2 linked regions of the Homo sapiens genome follow. The protein of the gene in region 1 interacts with the protein of each later gene in a pairwise test. Each region holds a gene or a part of one and is shown in the gene's direction. Other genes may lie near its edges. The genes, in order: NAT10 and THUMPD1.

What was found.
Region 2: the proteins of NAT10 (region 1) and THUMPD1 interact in binary tests that used the Homo sapiens proteins (3 or more experiments, as listed by UniProt).

The regions. Positions count from the first base shown.
Region 1 is NC_000011.10:34,107,486-34,117,817, forward strand, and holds part of NAT10 (RNA cytidine acetyltransferase), read left to right. Parts: intron 1-725; 5' UTR 726-740; coding exon 741-848; intron 849-1,256; coding exon 1,257-1,348; intron 1,349-4,566; coding exon 4,567-4,738; intron 4,739-6,230; coding exon 6,231-6,353; intron 6,354-8,337; coding exon 8,338-8,399; intron 8,400-10,332. UniProt on the Homo sapiens protein: RNA cytidine acetyltransferase that catalyzes the formation of N(4)-acetylcytidine (ac4C) modification on mRNAs, 18S rRNA and tRNAs.
Region 2 is NC_000016.10:20,736,764-20,747,088, reverse strand, and holds the start of THUMPD1 (THUMP domain-containing protein 1), read left to right. Parts: upstream 1-5,270; 5' UTR 5,271-5,349; coding exon 5,350-5,580; intron 5,581-8,017; coding exon 8,018-8,192; intron 8,193-9,132; coding exon 9,133-9,381; intron 9,382-9,802; coding exon 9,803-10,209; 3' UTR 10,210-10,325. UniProt on the Homo sapiens protein: Functions as a tRNA-binding adapter to mediate NAT10-dependent tRNA acetylation modifying cytidine to N4-acetylcytidine (ac4C).

The DNA.
Region 1 (10,332 bases):
CACCATCCAGAAGTAGCTACTTTATACTTTGGTATTTCCTTCCAGTCTTTTTTATTTTTCCCTCTGTTATGTGTATGCATAAGAAATGTTATCATACTTTATTCTGTCATGATCTTGTCATAAGCATCTATATCCATATCCTTAGTTGTTAAAAATGCTTGGCCCAGCATGGTGGCTCACACCTGTAATCCCAGCCCTTTGGGAGGCTGAGGTGGGCAGATTGCGAGGTCAAGAGATCGAGACCATCCTGGCCAACATATGCGCCTGTAGTCCCAGCTACCTGGGAGGTTGAGGCAGGAGGATTGCTTGAACCCAGGAAGCAGAGGTTGCAGTGAGCCGAGATCATGCCATTGCACTCCAGCCTGGCGACAGAGTGAGACTCCGTCTCAAAAACAAACAATGCTTTGGATATTTGGATATCTCCTTATGTATTTTAGTCATTCTTCTACTTTTTTGAATATACAAGTTTCTGGCTTTTAAAAAATATTTAATAGAGGTGAATTACAGGCTTTCCAGGCTGAGGGAAGGTTTTCTCACCTCCCAAGCCTAAGGTTTCCTGAGTTTAAAACTAGAGGCTGATGTCTTCCTGTGGAGCTCGTAGAGGGTTAAGTAAGACAATACTTATAGATATGCCTAGCACAGTCCCAGGCCCCACAAAAGGCAGCCAGCTAATGTTCCTTAGACAATCTAGTGCGCATGGCCAGTTGTATTTCTTTCTCTTTTAGTAATAATTTTTCACCATGCATCGGAAAAAGGTGGATAACCGAATCCGGATTCTCATTGAGAATGGAGTAGCTGAGCGGCAAAGATCTCTCTTTGTTGTAGTTGGGGATCGAGGAAAAGATCAGGTATGGCCTGGTAAATGCTTCCTGAATTACTTTTTATCTTGTCCAAAGAATCAGCATGTTTAAGCACTCTGCTGTTTCAGGACATAATGGCATTAAGATCTCTTTGGCTGGTAAGATGCCTAGTGGGAACCTTTCTTTATTTCCTGGAAGTGGTGAATTCTCTGTATTTAGATTGATTCGCAGACAAGCTAATACCTTTTGAAGCCTGGGGTGGTGGGTTGACCACAAAGTGAACTGTATGTGACCTGGCTTCTAGTCCAAACCTGGTCATTGCTCGCCTTAGAACCTTGGGCACTTCCCTTCCCTGGCCCTCAGTTTAGTTTCCACATCCGTCAAATGAGGTCTTAAGCCTGGCGGTCTCTAAAGTCTCTTTTGTGCCTGAAATTCTGTGACTTTTTTGTTTGGCAGGTGGTAATACTTCATCACATGTTATCCAAAGCAACTGTGAAGGCTCGGCCTTCAGTGCTGTGGTGTTATAAGAAAGAGCTGGGGTTTAGCAGGTAAGCTGGGCTCTTCATGTGTTTTATCCAACTTACAATTCCTGCTCATTAGTTAAATGCCAGGAAATGATTCCTTCACATATTTTTTAAGGGTCTTTAGTGGAGGTGCTATCTCTGAGGACAAATGGAGCTGATATCCTTTCTTCATTCCTGAAAATAAGTTTCAAATCATTTTCATGCTTTTTAAGTCACCAATCCAATGCCTTGCCTTCTGCATATGGTTTTCCTTCCTGCTTTTCTAGGCTGATTAAGCCCATCTCATTGCAAGTTCCTTCAAACTGTCTTTCCTACCTCAAATTTATTCCACTTTTCACTCTCTCTCTTTTTCTCCCCTTCTTTCATGGAGGGGGTATATGCCTCATCCCATGTCCAAGGAAAACCCCTTTATGTACCCTGTGTCTCCTCCCTCACCTCTTTCAGGACCTGTATTGTCTTTCCTCTGCTGGCCACCCAATACCCTTTGGAAACTTTCTCCTTCCTGTAAACATGCTCAGATTTTTCTATTATCAAAAGCTGATTACTTACATACCCAGATTTCTCTCTCAGGTTAGCATTTCCCCCGATTTTTATTGCCATATACCTTAAAACAGAAATCTTTTGCACTTAGTAGCCACTTTTGCAGTCTGGTTTCTGCTTCTATAATTGTGATCAAATTGTGCAGTTAGACATCCCCAGCAGCTTGATGCCTAATGCGTCAACTTTTCTCTCTCTTTCTCCTCCTTTTCAGAGCTCTGCCTCTTCTTCTACCAGTTCACTGCTGTATTTGACAGTTGGCTATTTGAAGCTGTGGTAGTCAAGACTTTTAGTCATAGATAACATACTTTCAACACAAATACAATTTGGCACAAAGGGATTTCATTGAGGTATATGGGATATTTCCTGGAATCCAAGGGGATAAGATTTCAGCTCTGCTCACGGGTGATCTAGAGTCACAGTACTAATGCTCCCAGCTCAGTTTGTCATCTCAGTGTATCTGCTCTATGCAGACCAACTTTCTCACTGCAGACCAGCTTTCTGTTTTCTGTTGTCCCCCTAGCAGAAACAACACTTGCGTTTTCCTTGTTTCAGGCCCAGCCATGTGGAAATCAGACTTTTTCCCAAAATTCTGGTGGAAAAATGCCCACACCTGGCCAGAGGAGGGTGGGGTTGGTCATAGCATAATACAAAGTTGGAAGTTCTACCTACAACTTTGTGTTTGGAGAAGTTTGGATGGGGTGGGTAGTGCTGTTCCTTGGCAGATAACCACCATGGCATCACCTAAGAAATAGTCTCCTTTTTTGGCTTCAGTGTCTTTACTCAGACCACCTTCCGGAGCTCTTCTCTTTCTCTGGATCTCGTCTCCTTACTCTAAACCTAGCTGGCTTGTGCGATTCTGTCCTTGAGCCTCTTCTAATTTCCAAATGTGCTCATCTCCGATCTGACTCTGAAAGCCTGTCTCCAGCTCTGGTTGCTTTATGCTGTGACTAACCTCCCTCCTTTTCTTTGCTCATGCTGTCTCCTCTGCTTGGAATGCCACTTCCACCTCCCCGGTATCACCTATTGAAATCCTGTTTCTCAGGGCCTGCCTCCTCCGTGAAACTTTTCCTGAGCCCCCCAGTCATACCTGGTGGTTCCTCTACCTTCCTCTGCACTTGTCCTTCTCCTATAATGTTTGCCAATGGATGCTTTTGCTTTAGGGTAAAGTCACTTACATACTGTGACTTACGTTCATTTTTTTTTCTTTCCCTTTTTTTTTTTTTTTTTTTTTTTTTACTTTCAGGTGATAAGCTTATTTAGTTAGGAGCCCTCTTCTATTTATCTTTGTATTTTCATACTTTTAACTGATTTAGCATGTTTATCATAGGTACTCAGTATACATTGAGTTGGATGTGTTGTTAACAGGCTCTAAAATTATTTTAATTTAAATTAGTACCAGAGGCTAAACTTGCCCCTGTCCTGTGGTCTTAAAGTGAAGGGATTCTGCCTAAAGGAAACCAGACAATCATAAGAGCCTTACTGATGAAATGTGAAAAGTGCAGAAAACCCAAAGATGAAAATAAAAAACATCTCACTGTCTAGGCATTGTCAGCATCTAGGTGTATCTTACAGGGATGTAGTTTTGAACCATAATTGGTATTCTGTTGTATATACTCTCATATTTAGAGAGGTAGGCATTTTTAATACAGATTGAGAATAAGGCCTGTTGTCTATCCCAGAATTTTAAGTTTTTAGGGCTTCTGGTTTTCACTATTTTTCATTTGGCAAATATGAGATGGGTGTGGAATTAGGCAGTTCAAAGTCTTCTGGGCAGATTTGCCTTTTGAATTTAAACCACCTGGCTTCACTTCTAAAAATCTACTTTTGTACCTCTTATAGCTCTTCTGCCCCACCCCTGTCTTAGTCTGGCAGAGCATTGTGTTCAAGCTAATGCCTGTTTGTAAGTCACGGGCTTAAGGCCTGAGCCAGAAGGGACAGTGGAGACAAACTCACCCACTGCCTTGGTTCATAGATGAGGAAGTGGAGGCCCACAGGAGGAAAGGCCTTTGTTCTAGCTATTAAGTTAGAGAACTATGGTAAAATTTTGATCAGCTGTAATCCTCCATTCTAGAACATTCTAATTCTCTCTTTTGGTAAAGGAAAGGTAAGTAGCAACTGGATATGCAGGGTTTTTAAGACCAAAAAAATTCAGGAATTCCTTAGAGATGTCCAGATTCCATTCTGATCCCTGTGTCCTGTATCATTATTGTCTTATGTAAGACCTGCCCTTGAAGACATAATCCCACATTCTCGGGGAGGAAGTCCTCTAGGAAGGATGAATAAAGTAACGTGCCATCACCTTGTCTTTCCTAGGATCTCTGGGGAACAGCACAGTGTAGTTGAAGCATTGGCTTATGACTGAGATAATGAGGCCACTCAGGTTTGGTTTCAAGCTCTGGCTTTGGCCAAATGTGAGGGTTAGCTACCCTATTACCCATCTTTTAAAGCAAAGTATTTGCTCAAGGTCACAGGGCAAAATAGCAGAGTTCACACATAGACTTATCACTTACTCCAAGCCCTTAAGCACTCTAATGCCTCTCATGCCTCTCCACTGCCCTCCACCTGAAGTGGGCCTCACACTTTCAAGTTCCCTACTAGCTCTGAAAGTCTAAGTGGGTGATCACTGAGCCTTTCCCCTGGTTCCAGCTCTTTAGCTGCTCTGGTTAACTGGCTCTCATGGGATTGGGGGTGTGTGATTGCAGTCACCGGAAGAAAAGAATGCGACAGCTGCAGAAGAAAATAAAGAATGGAACACTGAACATAAAGCAGGACGACCCCTTTGAACTCTTCATAGCAGCCACAAACATTCGCTACTGCTACTACAACGAGACCCACAAGATCCTGGGCAATACCTTCGGCATGTGTGTGCTGCAGGTGGGTGGCTTCCTCTAACCTGTGATTGAAGTCAGAGTCTTGAGGGTTGCTTGGGCTGCCTGGCTTTCCACTGGGAACAGATGTACAGTAAGGAGAGGAGAGTCCCATGTTCCCTATGCCCAAGCATTATTAGTGGAAGTCCTGGCCACTTTCCAAAGTACACTCGGTCACCTACCCCATATAAAAAGAGAATTTTAAATCAGCACTTGTCTAGAGACACCAGAACTGAAGTGATGAGTTATTATAACGGGTTCTAACTAGCTAAAGCTGATAAAGCAAATGCCAGAGACTTTGAGTGCCTCTAGGACCCTAGGTCCTTATTGGCATTCACCAAAGACTTTTTTTGTCCAGTGAGCAATGGGACTTGTTTTCCAACCGGATATAGACCAATGCACTTAAATGTCCTGTCCAGAGTGCCTGAGTGGCATACCCACCATGAAGGCCCCTCTCCCCTTTTCTAGCCCTTAAAAACCCCTCACTTTACCTCTCAGAGACTACTTGGTGAATTTCTGCACTGGTGTGTATTCTCTTGCCTGGCAAGTTAATAGACTAAGTTTCACTTTGTGTGTGTGTGTGTGCATGTGTGTGTAAGCACTGGTGGTCTTTGTTTTATTCTTTGTTTCTTTGATTCCTGTGCCACCTCCCTTCCCCATTCTCCCAAAAAAGACAAGACAAAATTAAGCACAAATCCTCACATTTTTGTGTGTTTATCATATACACTTACAACTGTGCCCATTATTATGTCAAGTTACATACCTTGCAAAATATGGGTTGTCTCCTATACTGCTGGCTTGCATCTCACCTTGGAGGCCAAGAAAGAGGGCATTATGCCTCATTTTCACCTTTACTCAGGGAAATGCCCTGGGTTATCACTGATTGGTAGGGAGTGGTCTTCTACTTGCTGCCATGATCAATTGCCTGAATAATGACTCCTGTGAGCAGTAGCTCCCCCATGTAGTATAGTTTTGTCAAACAGGTTTGAGCTATAAATGTCAGAAAATGTAAGATGTTTCTGAAATTCAAGTATGAATCAGTGAAGGTTGGAAAATTTGTTTCCAAATAGGATTTTATCAGAGACATTTTTGACATATAAAACTAACAACGTCTCTAATAAGAGACCCGTTTTTGGCATATAAAACCAGGTATTCGTATATTCGAGGGTTTGGCCCTCTTCTGTGGTACCCCTGTGTGTGTATCCTGGGAAGTCAAGGTGGGAACAGGTATGGTCTTGGCTTTGTGCTCTGAAGTCTTCTTTTTGCCTTATCACCTGGCTTTTGGTTAAGAGTCCCTTGGGTTGGGCCAGGCGCGGTGGCTCATGCCTGTAATCCCAGCACTTTGGGAGGCTCAGGTGGGTGGTGAGCCAAGATTGCGCCACTGCACTCCAGCCTGGGCGACAGAGCAAGACTCCATCTCAAAAAAAAAAAAAAAAAAAAAAAAGTCCTTTGGGTTGCTATTTGCATGACCAGCCCTTTCTAACGCCCCCTTCTTCCAGGATTTTGAAGCCTTAACTCCAAACTTGCTGGCCAGGACTGTAGAAACAGTGGAAGGTGGTGGGCTAGTGGTCATCCTCCTACGGACCATGAACTCACTCAAGCAATTGTACACAGTGACTATGGTAAGCATCTGTTTTTTAACTTAATTGTGAGGGTTCAAGTAAATCTGTTTTTGCTGTGTTCTGCTTTCTTTAAAGAATTCCTGTTGGGCAGCTCCAGTGAGTAGTCAGCACAGCCTCTGGGCTAAGAGCTCTTTGATTTTAACTAATGAAAAAGTCACTACAGTTAAATCTCAGGGTCCATGAGTATGCCTAGGAATCTCTGAATTTCACCTTTGTTTTCAGGCACTTGCAAATTCTACACCAGTGAGATTCAGATATGATACAGCTTTTATGTAGTTAAATTTTCTGGAATGATATTGTACAAGGAGCAATGCCAGTGCCTAAATTTGTGTATTGCAAAAAAAGGACCATGTGCAGACTGCTCACTGGCCCTTATCCTAATGGATGACGAAGGAACATTTGCCAGTTGTACTCCAGTTTGGCAAGAATTTCAACTCCAGCAGAGATTGTGTTCTCCCAAAGCAAAAGACACTGACTGAGGACATGGTGAGGAATTAGGGATATGTCTCACCTGATGCAGAGCTGGTCTCCTCACTTTATCAGCGTTGCCAAGTCAGTGTTCAGAGGCAAGTTTTAAGTCATGCCCATGTCCAGCAGCTCAGTAATGGTGGTCGGATTGGACTTAGGGTTTCCTGAGCTGCATTTATCTGATGAAATGGACTTTCCTCAAATCTTAGGGGCTGTTTCCTGTCATTACTTCTCCCTTCATCACTTGCACTACAGCCCTTTTGGCCTCCTCAAATGTCCTCAGACATGCCCAGCACACACTCCTGCGAGGGCCTCGGCACTTGCTGTTCCCACTGGAATGTGCTTCCTCTGGACCTCTGCCTGGCTCGCTTCCTCATTGCATTCAAGCCCCTGCTCAGATATCACCTCATCCATGTGGTCTTTCCTCACACCCTGTTTACAGTAGGCAGCTCCGCCTGTCACTCCTTAACCGGCTTTATTTTTCTTCAAAGCACTTGACAATGACCTAAAGTTATTATTATTATTTGTCTGTCCTCCTGTACTAGTCTCTAAATTTCACTGGAGGGCCGATCACAGTGGCTCACGCCTGTAATCCTAGCACTTTGGGAGCCTGAGGTGGGCGGATCACCTGAGGTCAGGAGTTTGAGACCAGCCTGGCCAACATGGTGAAACCTCGTCTCTACCAAAAATACAAAAAAAATTAACCAGGTGTGGTGGTGCACACCTGTAATTCCAGCTACTAGGGAGGCTGAGGCAGGAGAATTGCTTGAACTCAGGAGGCGGAGGTTGCGGTGAGCTGAGGTCACGCCACTGCACTCCAGCCTGGGCAACAGAGCAAGACTCCGTCTCAAAATAAATAAATAAGTAAATAAATTTGATGGGAACAGAGAGTTAGTTTTCTTTGCTGTTGCATTTCCAGATCTTAGAAGAGTTCCTGGCATTTAGTAAGCATTCCTTAGATAGTTGAGAGTGAATGAATGACTTTGTGCTCACATCAGTTTGTTCTTCCTCTCCCTCTGACATAGCTACCTACTTACCCTTCAGGCCTCAGCTTATCTCAGAGAGGCCCTCCCTCACTACCCTACATAAGTGACCCCCACTTGCTATCCGTGCAGTCTATATTTCATATGTAGCATTTGTCAAAATTTGTATTTATCTACTAATTTTTCTTCCTCCATCCATTATACTCCAAGTGCCATGAGAACAGAGGTCATGCTTTGTTCATTAGTGTATGCACAGCATATCTGGCACACAGCATGCCAATTTTATGAAATAAATGAATATAACTTAGGATGCTAGGAAAAATGTGGAAAAGTGAAAGATTTTAATAAGCAACGTTGCATTCAGTGTCTGATCCCAGTTTCAGCAAATACCATTTGGCACAGCAGTGTGTGTGGGAGTGATTTTGTTTCCAGCAAGATTGCCCATGTCTCCTTGGATAGAGCTTTGTATTTGGACCCTGGTCCTCAGCACTGTTTGCATGCCTTTGTTAATGGATGTTGTCTTTCTTTGTTAGGATGTGCATTCCAGGTACAGAACTGAGGCCCATCAGGATGTGGTGGGAAGATTTAATGAAAGGTAATTCTATAGTTCCCCCCAATTGTGGGGCAGCCACATTGGGAGGGACATTTTTATCTTGGACTCAACTGAAAACTTTGCTTTTATATTGGGGAAAGTAGTACAATATTCCAAAAATGATGAGATTCTTGACAGCAGCAGCAGTTGTGAGACTAACTGGAAGCAGTGAAACGTGGTGGAAAGTTGGAGCCAGGAAACCTCAATTTTGTCTTGCTGCTGGCCTTGACAGCTCAGTTAAACCAGGTTACTCTCTCTGGTTCTTAGCTTACTCATCTTTTAAATGAGTGATTTTTCTGGATCACTGCTTCCCAGAAGATATTTCATAGAGCAGTAGTCTTTCCAAACTTTTTATTATGAATATGACGTACTGGCATAGTAAAAATGATTAAGAGAAATATGGGAGGTGGGGTGAGATGTAATTAGAGGCAGAAAAAGGCGACAAAGTGTTTCTTCTGAGCAAAGGAACACCCATAATTTCAAATATGGTGTACGGTTTGTTATCTGAAATTAAATTTGTATGTATTTATTTTTATTTTATTTATTTATTTTTTTGAGATGGAGTCTTGCTGTGTTGCCCAGGCTGGAGTGTAGTGGTGCGATTTTGGCTCACTGCAACCTTTGCCTCCCAGGTCGAGTGATTCTCCTGTATCAGCCTCCCGAGTAGCTGGGATTACAGGTGCCCGCCACCACACTCGGCTAATTTTTTGTATTATTATTATTATTTTTTTGAGACAGAGTCTCGCTCTGTTGCCCAGGCTGGAGTACAGAGACACGATCTTGGCTCACTGCAACCTCTGCCTCCCGCATTCAAGCAATTCTTGTGCCTCAGCTTCCCAAGTAGCCGGGATTACAGGAGCCCACCACCATGCCTGGCTAATTTTTGTATTTTTAGTAGAGACAAGGTTTCACCATGTTGGCCAGGCTGGTCCTGAACTCCTGACCTCAAGTGATCTGCCCCACTCAGTCTCCCAAAGTGCTAGGATTGCATGTATGAGCCACCGTGCCTGGCCATTTTTTGTATTTTTAGTAGAGGTGGGGTTTTCACTGTGTTGGCCAGGCTGGTGTCGAACTCCTGACCTCAAGTGATCTGCTCACTTTGGCCTCCCAAAGTGCTGGGATTACAGGCGTGAGCCACCGTGCCCGATCATAGAACACTAGTCTTTTAAGAGGGAACATATGAGGAGGGTTTGGCCATATATGTCTGGGAAACACCTATACCGTTTTTTCCTTTATGAAGATTTGCCCCAGCCTGTTGTAATCTCTGAAAAGTCTTGCAGCAGCAGGGACCTGTTTAACTGATTGTTTCCCAAATTTATTTTACCAAAAAAATTTATTTTTTTGAGGGGTGTGGGAACACCAGTTAGCACCCTGTGAAACACCTTAGGAAATTTTGACCTAAATCAGTGGTTCTCATCTGGAGCCATTTGGCCCCCTGGGGACATTTGGCAATGTCTGGAAATGTTTTGATCGTAATGACTTTGGGAGGGTGGTGGTGGGTGCCGTGGGCATCCGGTGGGTAGAGGCCAGGGATGCTGCTGAACAACTGGTGGTGCACAGGACAGCTCCACACCAAAGAATTATCTGGTCCAAAATGTCAGTAGTGCTGAGGTGTAGAAATCCGAGCCTTGATGAACCCTGGGGGCCTTTCTCATTTTAACCATCTGTGATGCACTAAGTCAGTAGAATGAGCAGATCAGGAGGAGCAGCTGTGTGCTACTGAATACAACAGAAGCCTATGAAATCCTTTTCTTGCAGTGGGAGGATGTTTGAATTTTATAGTCAAACGCATTTTTTTCCCTGCTTGCAAGAACGTTTGTATTGTATTTCTTTGGGGAGCTTTCCTTTCACCTTCTTCCTTTTTTTTCTTTTTCCTAGTGACAAAAGATGAATTCATTTGTATTTTTTCCCTGTGTGACTGGTGATCATATGGGGG
Region 2 (10,325 bases), on another chromosome or scaffold:
TGTTTTTTTTTTTATATCTCCTGCTTCAAAACAATTACTTTGGAACATAGATTATTCAACCAAATCTCAAAGGAGTGGGAAGGAAGTACCCACAAAACACCAGGAAAAGTTTAAGAAGAAAGACTTGTATGTTTAGAGTATAAAATTGAAAGATAAAATTGGAGGGAAAGAGATTTAATGACTTTTGCCCTTAAGAACATAGGCCCTCAAAGTGCCAAGTTTGCCATAGAGAAACATATCTGTCAAAACTGGGACCCAGGCACTGGTGGAATGAAATGAATTAGAGGTGATGGGGATCAGTATAGGACACTCAGCAGGGCTGAGTAGGTACAAAGGCCAGGCCAAATTTGACTCCTCTAGGGGCAGACTCAAGTTCACATTGGTTTAAAATTGGGTTCCAGCCTGGGTGATCAGGCTGTTGGGTGAGTTTCTCACACAGCGTCTGGGTGTAATGAAAGCACAAATGTGACAAGTGCTGCCAGTGAGGCTACAAAGCTAGTGAAAGGTGGGATGTCATTCAATCAAATGTGAGGCAGAAACCAGCTGGCAGAGGTAAGGCATGCCAGTCTTACGCATTTTATGTTATTTTACTTTACGCTATATATACTTTTAAATTCCCCTTTTCCACAGAGGAGGTCTATAGAACAATAAAATAAAACCCCTTTTAGTCTCCTAAGTAAAAGGATTCAACAGCTTTTAGTAAACCAAAAATATAAAAGAACCATTAAATTAGAGAATAATAGACAAATAATGAGGTTAGGTGATCAGACTGAGGGATGGATACTTACATCAAAAAGAAAAAAACAGGCTTCCATGATTCACGACTGAGTCTGAAAGCAGCTGTTTTTAAGCACATGTTGACTGAACAGTGGCTGAGAGCTAAGCACTTGTCATGACTGATCTTACTGGATTTTCCTAATAACCCATGATGTGAGTATTATTATTTCCATTATTATTATTTTTAAATCTAACAGGGAATCTAAACCTTGGCTTGGGTAACTTACTCAGAGTTTCACAGCCAGGTCATGGCCAAAGCAGAATTTGAACTTGGTTTGGCTTTAGAACCTGGGCTTTTAATCGTACTTGATACCTACTCTGAAGGCAGCAGATATTGGGAATCAAGTCAGAAGGAGACTGGGATTCACAGCCAGGATATCCATTCCCTGAAGATGCTGGGTAACAAGAGACTAAGGCAGGAAGTGTGGATGGGGAGCAAGGTCAGAACACGAGGAGTGTCTAAGAGCATCTCCTACCTGGGTTCTGTACTGAACATACAAGTAGAACTTCAGGGACAGTAACTTTGAAGGTTAGGAAGAGAAACAGAAAGGGAATCTAGAATGTGTCACACCATTCCCCCCTTGCTTGGCTGTGAGGCCTTCTGAATATCTGAAGCAAATAGGTTAATTAAAACAAAAGGTAACATCCTCAGATCACCTTAATCTACTCTAGATGGTGCCACAAGGTGCCAAGTGGTCTCTATTTATTTATTTATTTATTTATTTATTTATTTTGAGACAGAGTCTATTTTGCCCAGGCTGGAGTGCAGTGGCACGATTTCAGCTCACTGCAACCTCTGCCTCCCAGGTTCAAGCAACTCTCGTGTCTAGCCTCCCAAATAGCTGGGATTACAGGCATGCACCACCATGCCCAACTAATTTTTTTATTTTTAGTAGAGATGGGGTTTTGCCATGTTACCCAGTCTGGTCTTGAACTGGCCTCAAGTGATCTACCCTCCTTGGCCTCCCAAAGTGCTGGGATTACAAGCGTGAGCCACCGTGCCTGGCCCCAAGTGGTCCCTTCTAAGAGAGGTTTTCAAGCGACAGAGTCCCTGGTGTCTAAGGATAGACACTGGGCCATTGTCCATGTCTGGGAGGTAACCTAAGGAGGTGAAAGTTCACACAGCCATGAAATAATAGATGTAGTCTAAAGAATAAGCAAAAAAGAACAAAGAAGAATAATAAGGAATAAATGAAGGCTGAGTTATTTAGAGCTGGACGAGGGCCTGTTTCAGAAGAGGAAGTAAGTGGACGCAGCCCCGGCAGCTGCCACAGGATGAGTGTGTGATTTAGATAACTAACGTCTAGACTGAGAGCTACAGGGTTGCATATTTTTCTCACTTCATTGGATATTCTCTGCACAGTCAGCAACCATGAAATACAATAAACTGTTAAAAAACTTTAGACAAATTAAATTTAACAGAATTAAATTGCACAAGGAAGGATTCTCAAATCAGGCAGGCCCCTGACCCACTAACCGGAATAGGTTTAGAGACATCCTGGTGCTGCCACATGGTCAGAGATGATTTATGGACATAAAAAGAAAAGTGAGGTGCAGGAAATGGAAGTAAGGTACAGAAACAGCCCAATAGGTTACAACTCAGTATTTGCCTTATTTAAACGTGGTTTGGCTGGGCGCAGTGGCTCATGCCTGTAATCCCAGCACTTTGGGAGGCGAAGTGGGCAGATCTCTTGAGGTCAGGAGTTCAAGATCAGCCTGGCCAACATGGTGAAACCCCATATCTACTAAAAATACAAAAATTAGTTGGCCGTGGTGGCATGCACAGGTAATCCCAGCTACTTGGGAGGCTGAGGCAGGAGAATCGCTTGAACCCAGTAAGTGGACGTTGCAGTGAGCCGAGACTGCACCAGTGCACTCCATCCTGTGCGACAGCAAGACTCCGTCTCAAAAAACATAAAAATAAAAAACATGGTTTGAACAATCAGCCACCTGTGAGTGGTTGAGCATGGCTTCTGTGCTTGGCTGAGATTTGGCTACTTGTTACAACAGCCATTACAGTCTGTTTACACATCCAATTAGGTTATAGTTCACTATGTATGGAGAAACCTGTAGGCCAGGGATGTCCAATCTTTTGGCTTCCTTGGAAGAAGAATCCTCTTGGGCCACCCATAAAATATACTAATGCTAACAATAGCAGATGAATTTTTTTTAATTGCAGAAAAACCTCAGAGTGTTTTAAGAAAGTTTATTAATTTGTGTTGGGCCGGTTGAATTTCAAAGCTGTCCTGGGCCACATGTTGACTGTGGGCCAACAGGTTGGACAAGCTTGATTTAGGCCAAACTTAAATTTAGCCTAAAGCTGCCTCCTCACATATTTTAACAAAACTGAGTTTTTGTTTTTCAAGTTTGCCTCCATATAGTACTCAAATATGCTTGGGACTTGAAATATATATATTTTAACTTGTTATCTGTATGCTAATATTTGATATCCTAAGGACAGGTGGCAGAGTGTGGGCAACTGAAACCCAGCCAGCAGAAGAGAGAGAGATTTGGGGGAAGGCCAATGCCAGTGTCATGACACTGCTCTTCACAAACAACTGAGGACTTCTAGAAATCTCTGCTGTGCAGTGTCCACCAAAGAAATTCTGAAAATTAAATGCTGTATTGAATACACAGGTAAAAGCAAACAATAAGATGATAAAATTTTTGGACATAGTGGTAGATCTGGGGTTAGAACCTAGGGTTTATTGACTGTGAATTCGGTGTCCCTTTCAAAATATCAGATTACATCTTTTAGGGCTTTGTAGGAACTCAAATCTGCTAAGAGGTTTGTACCTGAAGAGTAGTATGAGAAGCACTTGTTTTTTAAACACATTCTTCAAAAGTGGCATCTTCAATGATTTTTAAAAAGACAGTAACATGATAAGTTGCCAAGACTATGGATAAAAGGCCGCAACGAAAGCAGCATGAAACAACACCAGCCAACATCCTTGGTTTTAAGTGAAATAGAAACATAGCCTGGAAAATTGAGGCTGAAATGGAATTTACTGGAAGCCTTTTGAGTAACTGTTCTATGTGGGAAATGCGCGAGGGGAAAAAACAAGACAAAATACGGCCAGGCGCGGTGGCTCACGCCTGTAATCTCAGCACTTTGGGAGGCCGAGGCGGGTGGATCACGAGGTCAGGAGATTGAGACCATCCTGACTGACACGGTAAAACCCCGTCTCTACTAAAAATAAAAAATATTAGCCGGGCGTGGTGGCGGGCGCCTGTAGTCCCAGCTACTCGGGAGGGAGGCAGGAGAATGGGGTGAACCTGGGAGGCGGAGCTTGCAGTGAGCCCAGATCGCACCACTGCACTCCAGCCTGGGCGACAGAGCGAGACTCCATCTCAAAAAAAAAAAAAAAAAATAGACAAACATACAATACCTTTGGGGGTAAACAACCTTTATCCCACGTAAATGGCAATGCAGATATAATAAGCAAATGATATAGTAAGCAAATTGCAATGGGAAGGGGAGAAGGGAAAAAAAAAAAATATATATATATATATATATATTTACACGCACCAGACTATGTTGGATTCATCACCAGACCGGGAAGCAACAGCCTGGGCTCCAGAGTCAGCCACTTGTCCGTGCACAGAGGAGGAGGGGTCTCAAGAAGCTTCCGTGTGGCCTGGGACCCTGGCTCATTTTTTTTTTTTTTTTGAGACAGAGCCTCGCTTTGTTGCCAGGCTGGAGTGCAATGGCACGATCTCGGCTTACTGCAACCGCCGCTTCCCGAGTTCGAGTGATTCCCCTGCCTCAGCCTCCCGAGTAGTTGGGACTACAGGTGCGCGCCACCACGCCTGGCTAATTTTTTGCATTTTAGTAGAGATGTTGGTCAGGATGGTCTCCATCTCCTGACCTCGTGATCTGCCTGCCTTGGCCTCCCAAAGTGCTGGGATTACAGGCGTGAGCCACCGTGCCCGGCCGACCCTGGCTCTTTTTGTAATGCGTTGATTGGCATGAGGCCCAGTCACGAGGGCCCTTCTCGACTGGGCTCAAGGAACACATAAAGGTCAACTTGTTTCTGTGATTGTCTGTTTTTCAATAACTCAAGTACAGGTACAGAGTTATCTGTAACAGTGCTGGATGAATGAATGCCTCAAGGGGCTCATGCAACCTGTTACGGGACTTGACCATTGTGTCCACGTTCAATTGAGTTCAAATTTAATATTTAACTTTTCCTCCACAGTAGCTGGCAGAATTATAGGGAAGGCTGGAGGAACAGGTACCAAGGTTGGGTGGAAGAAGCTATATGGCTGGAGCCAGCTTCAAGGGCTTGAGGAGCCACCGACACCACTTCCAGAATGGCTGCTATGCTGCCTCTACTGGATTCAGGTTGCAGTCGGGAGGCGGGGCAGGAGGCGGGGCTTGGGCGGGTATCACTCCACCCCTTTCACGATTGCAGACCGGCCTTAGGACCTGGCGCAGCACGGAATGAGGCTTCGAGGCCGGCTAGGGGAGGCCGTCGCTCATATCCGACGTCACCAGTTCGCGCCGGCGATAGACGAGGACGCCAACAGCAGCGGAGAAACGTTTCTCTTTCCTCTCAGTTTGCGCACACCATGGCGGCCCCTGCCCAGCAGACTACTCAGCCTGGCGGCGGGAAGCGCAAAGGCAAGGCTCAGTATGTGCTGGCCAAGCGCGCTCGGCGCTGCGACGCTGGCGGGCCCCGTCAGCTAGAGCCCGGGCTACAGGGCATCCTCATCACCTGCAATATGAACGAGCGCAAGTGCGTGGAGGAGGCCTACAGCCTCCTCAACGAATACGGCGACGACATGTATGGGCCAGAAAAGGTACCGGTCCCGGGGTGGGCGGGCGGGCCGGCTGCCAGGCCTTGCGGGAGGAGGGAAGGGTGGAGGGATGGCTGCTGGTATGGGCATGCGCGCCTCGGGTCGTCGGCGTGACGGCTGTAGGGGCGTGGCCTCGCCGGCGTTTCCGTCCCTAGTCCTGAGACGCTCGCAGACTTCGGTGCTATCGGTTTTGTGCTTGAAGTGCTTGCACCTTTTCTTGCCATCAGTAACCACGGTAGCTCCCATTACTTTTATTTTTATTTTTGTGAGACAGGGTCTCGCTCTGTTGCCGAGGCTGGAGTGCAGTGGCGTGATGATAGCTCAGGGAAGCCTCGACTTCTCCTGTCTCAGCCTCCAGAGTAGCTGGGACTATGAGTGCGCGCCACCACTCTCGGCTAAGTTTTGTAAATTGTAGATAAGGGGTCTCACTGTTTGGCCCAGGGTAGTCCTAAACCCTACACTCAAGCGATCCTCCCGTCTCTGCCTCTCAAGGTGCTGAGATTACAGGCGCGAGCCACTGAGCCCGGCCTACCTCCCACTTAAGGATTGCTCATTGAGGGCCAGGCGGTGTGCTGAAGCTCTTTCAGAAACACATTTTTCATGACAGCCTCGTGAAGTTGGAGTAATAATGTGTTTACCTGAAGCAATAATATTTCTGAAATAATAGGTTTACTACTAATGCTAGTTACTGCACTTAAAATACATTTTAGAACGTAAAAACTTTTACCAATATCACCTAAAGTCTTAGTGTTTGGAAATCATATTACTGGCTTAGAATCTGGACCAATACACACACGCACACTGAGGGATTAAATGAAGAAGGGTAATACAGAGGGAATTTAAATTCACGGCTCATCCTCTACTAGCTTGGGGACTCGGACATGGGCACATTATTTGATGCTGCTGAGCTAGATAAAAAAGAGAATACTTTAAGACTGGCTAGTGAGTTGCTTATGTACATAAAATACATACTGGTATGTAATAAAGTTTCTGTAAATGTATACAATTATTATTGTGCCTGACTGGCAATTTCGTTGGGCACTAGGGGGCAGAGAGCTGGGCAACAAGCACATATCCTGTCTACTCCTGTACTTTAAGCAAATTCTTTTTTTGGAAGCGGTCTTGCTCTGTCACCCAAGGTGGAGGTTGGAGTACAGTGGCATGCTCTTGCTCACTGCAACTTCCACCTCCGGGGCTGAAGCAGTCCTCCTGCCTCAGTCCCCGAGTAGCAGGGACTGCAGGCATGTGCCACCATGCCCGACTAATTTTTTGTATTTTTTGTAGAGACGGGTTCTCAGGCCATGTTGTCCAGGCTGGTGTCAAATTCCTAGGCTCAAGGGATCCGCCCACCTCTGCCCCCTAAAGTACTGGGATTACAGGCATGAGCCACCATGCTTGGCCAAAATTATTGAACAATGTATTTCTGTGCCTTGTTCCTTAATAGAACAAGAGTAAGGGTTTTTAATTCCACAGGTATTTGGTCTAATCTCACCAAAAGGACAGTGTCGTGTGAGGCACACAGATACCTGGTCAACGTGTTAAGGTCCACCCTAAAATGATTGATCTGGTCAGCACGTTTCTCTCTGCCTCAAACTGTCAGGATGCTTTTGAAAACATTTTCAAATTTTACATTCTATAGTCTGCGGGAATTCCCTCTTCCTCCACATTTTTTTTTTTTTTTTAATTTTTTTGAGACAGAGTCTTGCTCTGTCACCCAGGCTGGAGTGCAGTGGTGCAATCTCAGCTCACTGCAATATCTGCCTTCTGGGTTCAAGCGATTCTCCTGCCTCAGCCTCCTGAGTAGCTGGGATTACAGGCGTCTGCCACCACATCGGGCTAATTTTTGTATTTTTAGTAGAGACAAGGTTTCACCATGTTGGCTAGGCTGGTCTCGAACTTCTGACCTCAGGTGATCTGCTTGCCTCTGCCTCCCAGAGTGCTGGGATTATGGGCATGAGCCACCACTTCCGGCCTTGCTCCACGTTTTGAAGGGTGTGGTGTCCCAGCTTCGTAAAAAAAGCTTTATTATCAATACTGAGTCAGCTGGGCATGGTAGCTCACACCTGTAATCCCAGCACTTTGGGAGGCTGAGGCGAGTGGATCACCTGAGGAGTTTAAGACCAGCCTGACCAACATGGCGAAACCCCATCTCTACTAAAAATACAAAAATTAGCTGTGTGTAGTGGCATGCGCCTGTAATCACAGCTACTTGGGAGGCTGAGGCAGGAAAATTGGTTGAACCCAGGAGGCGGAGGTTGCAGCAAGTCAAGATCGCACCACTGCACTCCAGCCTGGGAGGCAAAGCGAGACTCCATCTTTAGAAAAAAAAAAAAAATCAATACTGAGCCACCTGCCGCCAGGGACTTCACATAAATAATTACTTATAGTGTTTAAATGTGAGCTGTTGTGTCATTTCTGCTCATTAGTTTTATGCAAACAGTTTACAGACAAGGATCAGCAGCCCTCTGGAAGTGAGGGAGAGGATGATGATGCGGAGGCTGCCTTGAAGAAAGAAGTTGGTGACATTAAGGCATCTACAGAGATGAGGTTAAGAAGATTCCAGTCAGTGGAAAGTGGAGCAAATAACGTTGTCTTCATCAGGACACTTGGGATAGGTGTGACAAATACTTGCTAAGATTATCGATCTCATAACATCTGGGTATCTTCCTGTCTCAGGGAATACTGCTTACAAAATGGCTTCTTGGGCATGACTCAGTTAATCATTTGATGGCAGCTTCTGTACACTGTATTAGCAGTTGGCCTGTGGAGAGGTAGAATGGGGTGGTGGACGTAGCATTGGCTTATGAGTGGAAACCTGGCTTTGCTGCTTCCTTCGTATATAACTTAAGGCAGAACTAGAGTGCCAGTTCTGTGTAAATAAGGGGCAGCTGCTACTCAGCTCCAGCCAGTTGTTGCTCTTTGGGAATGCAGGGCCAGGTATTTGAATTTCTCAAAAGAAGTTTGAAATCTGGAGTTTTTTTGTTTTTCAGTGTGGTCAACTAATTTACAAATTTTCGGAGCAGCCCCAAATATACTTGTATGTAGGCAAGTTGCAGCCTGAGGACCTCCCTTTCATGATGTTGTGCCCAGCATGGTTCTGGGATTCCTCTTGGGTCTGAGATTTAGACTTGTGTGCTAACTTAGCTAATGGATTAATTACATCTTTTAAAGTGACTCACAGAATTTTTTTTTTTTTTTTTTGTAAAAAAGTGTGTACTGTTTAATGTACTCTGTTGTTACAGGAAAACAACAGCATGGTGTTACGGTTGGATAACTCAGGACATCACAAAAATGTTAACAACGGTGTCTACCTAAACAGTCATTTCTAGTGCAAGCAGTAATAATGATGAAAAGTTAAAATATATTAGATACATTATAGTACGTATTAGGCACTGAAGAAATACTGTTTGGAAAGAATGACTAGGTAGATTCATTTAAAATTCATTATGAGAATTTCTTCTGTCAACTTATGTCATTGCCAGTGAAAATTCATTTTAGAGTTCGATCTTTAAGATGTCTGAGAAATTATCTTCTTAACTTTTTTTTTTTCTTAAGAGCCTGAGAAATTGGTGCATCATATTCTCCAGGATATGTACAAAACCAAGAAAAAGAAGACTCGAGTTATTTTGCGAATGTTACCCATCTCAGGCACATGCAAGGCTTTTTTAGAAGATATGAAAAAATATGCAGAAACATTTTTGGAACCCTGGTTTAAAGCTCCAAACAAAGGGACATTTCAGATTGTGTACAAATCTCGAAATAACAGTCATGTGAATAGAGAAGAAGTTATCAGAGAATTGGCAGGTATGTTTCTCTTAGTGATTTTCCATAGGCATTCAATGGTAAATACTTGTTTTTTAAGGATTTTTTTCTTTTTAAAGATTTAAGGCTTACATTTTTGAGTGTAGAACAAATATATTAAAATGTTCTTAAAATAGTATTAAATCAACTGATTTCAATATGTCGGATATGAGATTTTCTGGTAGTTAGATAAAAGTCTTTTTTAACTCGAAATTGAATTTTGTTTGGAAAAAAATTCTTATTAAATGTTGTAGGGTTTCATTTGTGTTTATTTATTGTAAGGGTTCAGATTATTTGAAGTCCACATAGAAGAGTGGATTACTGTATGTCTTGTTTTAACAAGAAACAGAGACAAAAGATTTTTTGTATCTATCAGATGTAATGGTATCCTCCTCAGCTATGTGTTTTTCTGTTTTTGTTACAGGAATAGTGTGCACCCTCAATTCAGAAAATAAAGTGGATCTCACCAATCCACAGTACACAGTGGTAGTAGAAATCATCAAAGCTGTCTGTTGCCTGAGTGTTGTGAAAGATTACATGTTGTTTAGAAAATACAATCTCCAGGAGGTGGTGAAGAGCCCTAAGGATCCGTCACAGCTTAACTCAAAGCAGGGAAATGGGAAAGAAGCTAAACTGGAATCTGCGGACAAATCAGACCAAAACAACACAGCAGAAGGAAAAAATAACCAGCAGGTACCAGAGAATACTGAGGAGCTGGGGCAGACAAAACCAACGTCTAATCCACAGGTGGTAAATGAGGGAGGAGCCAAACCTGAACTTGCAAGTCAAGCCACAGAAGGATCCAAGTCAAATGAAAATGACTTCTCATAGGAAGTCATTTGGTGTTGGAGGTGGGTTTCTCACCTGGGGCTCTACGAGATGTTGCTGGGGCTCCACCTTAAATTGTGACTAAAAACAGTTTTTTATTTGTGTGCTGCATTATGCTG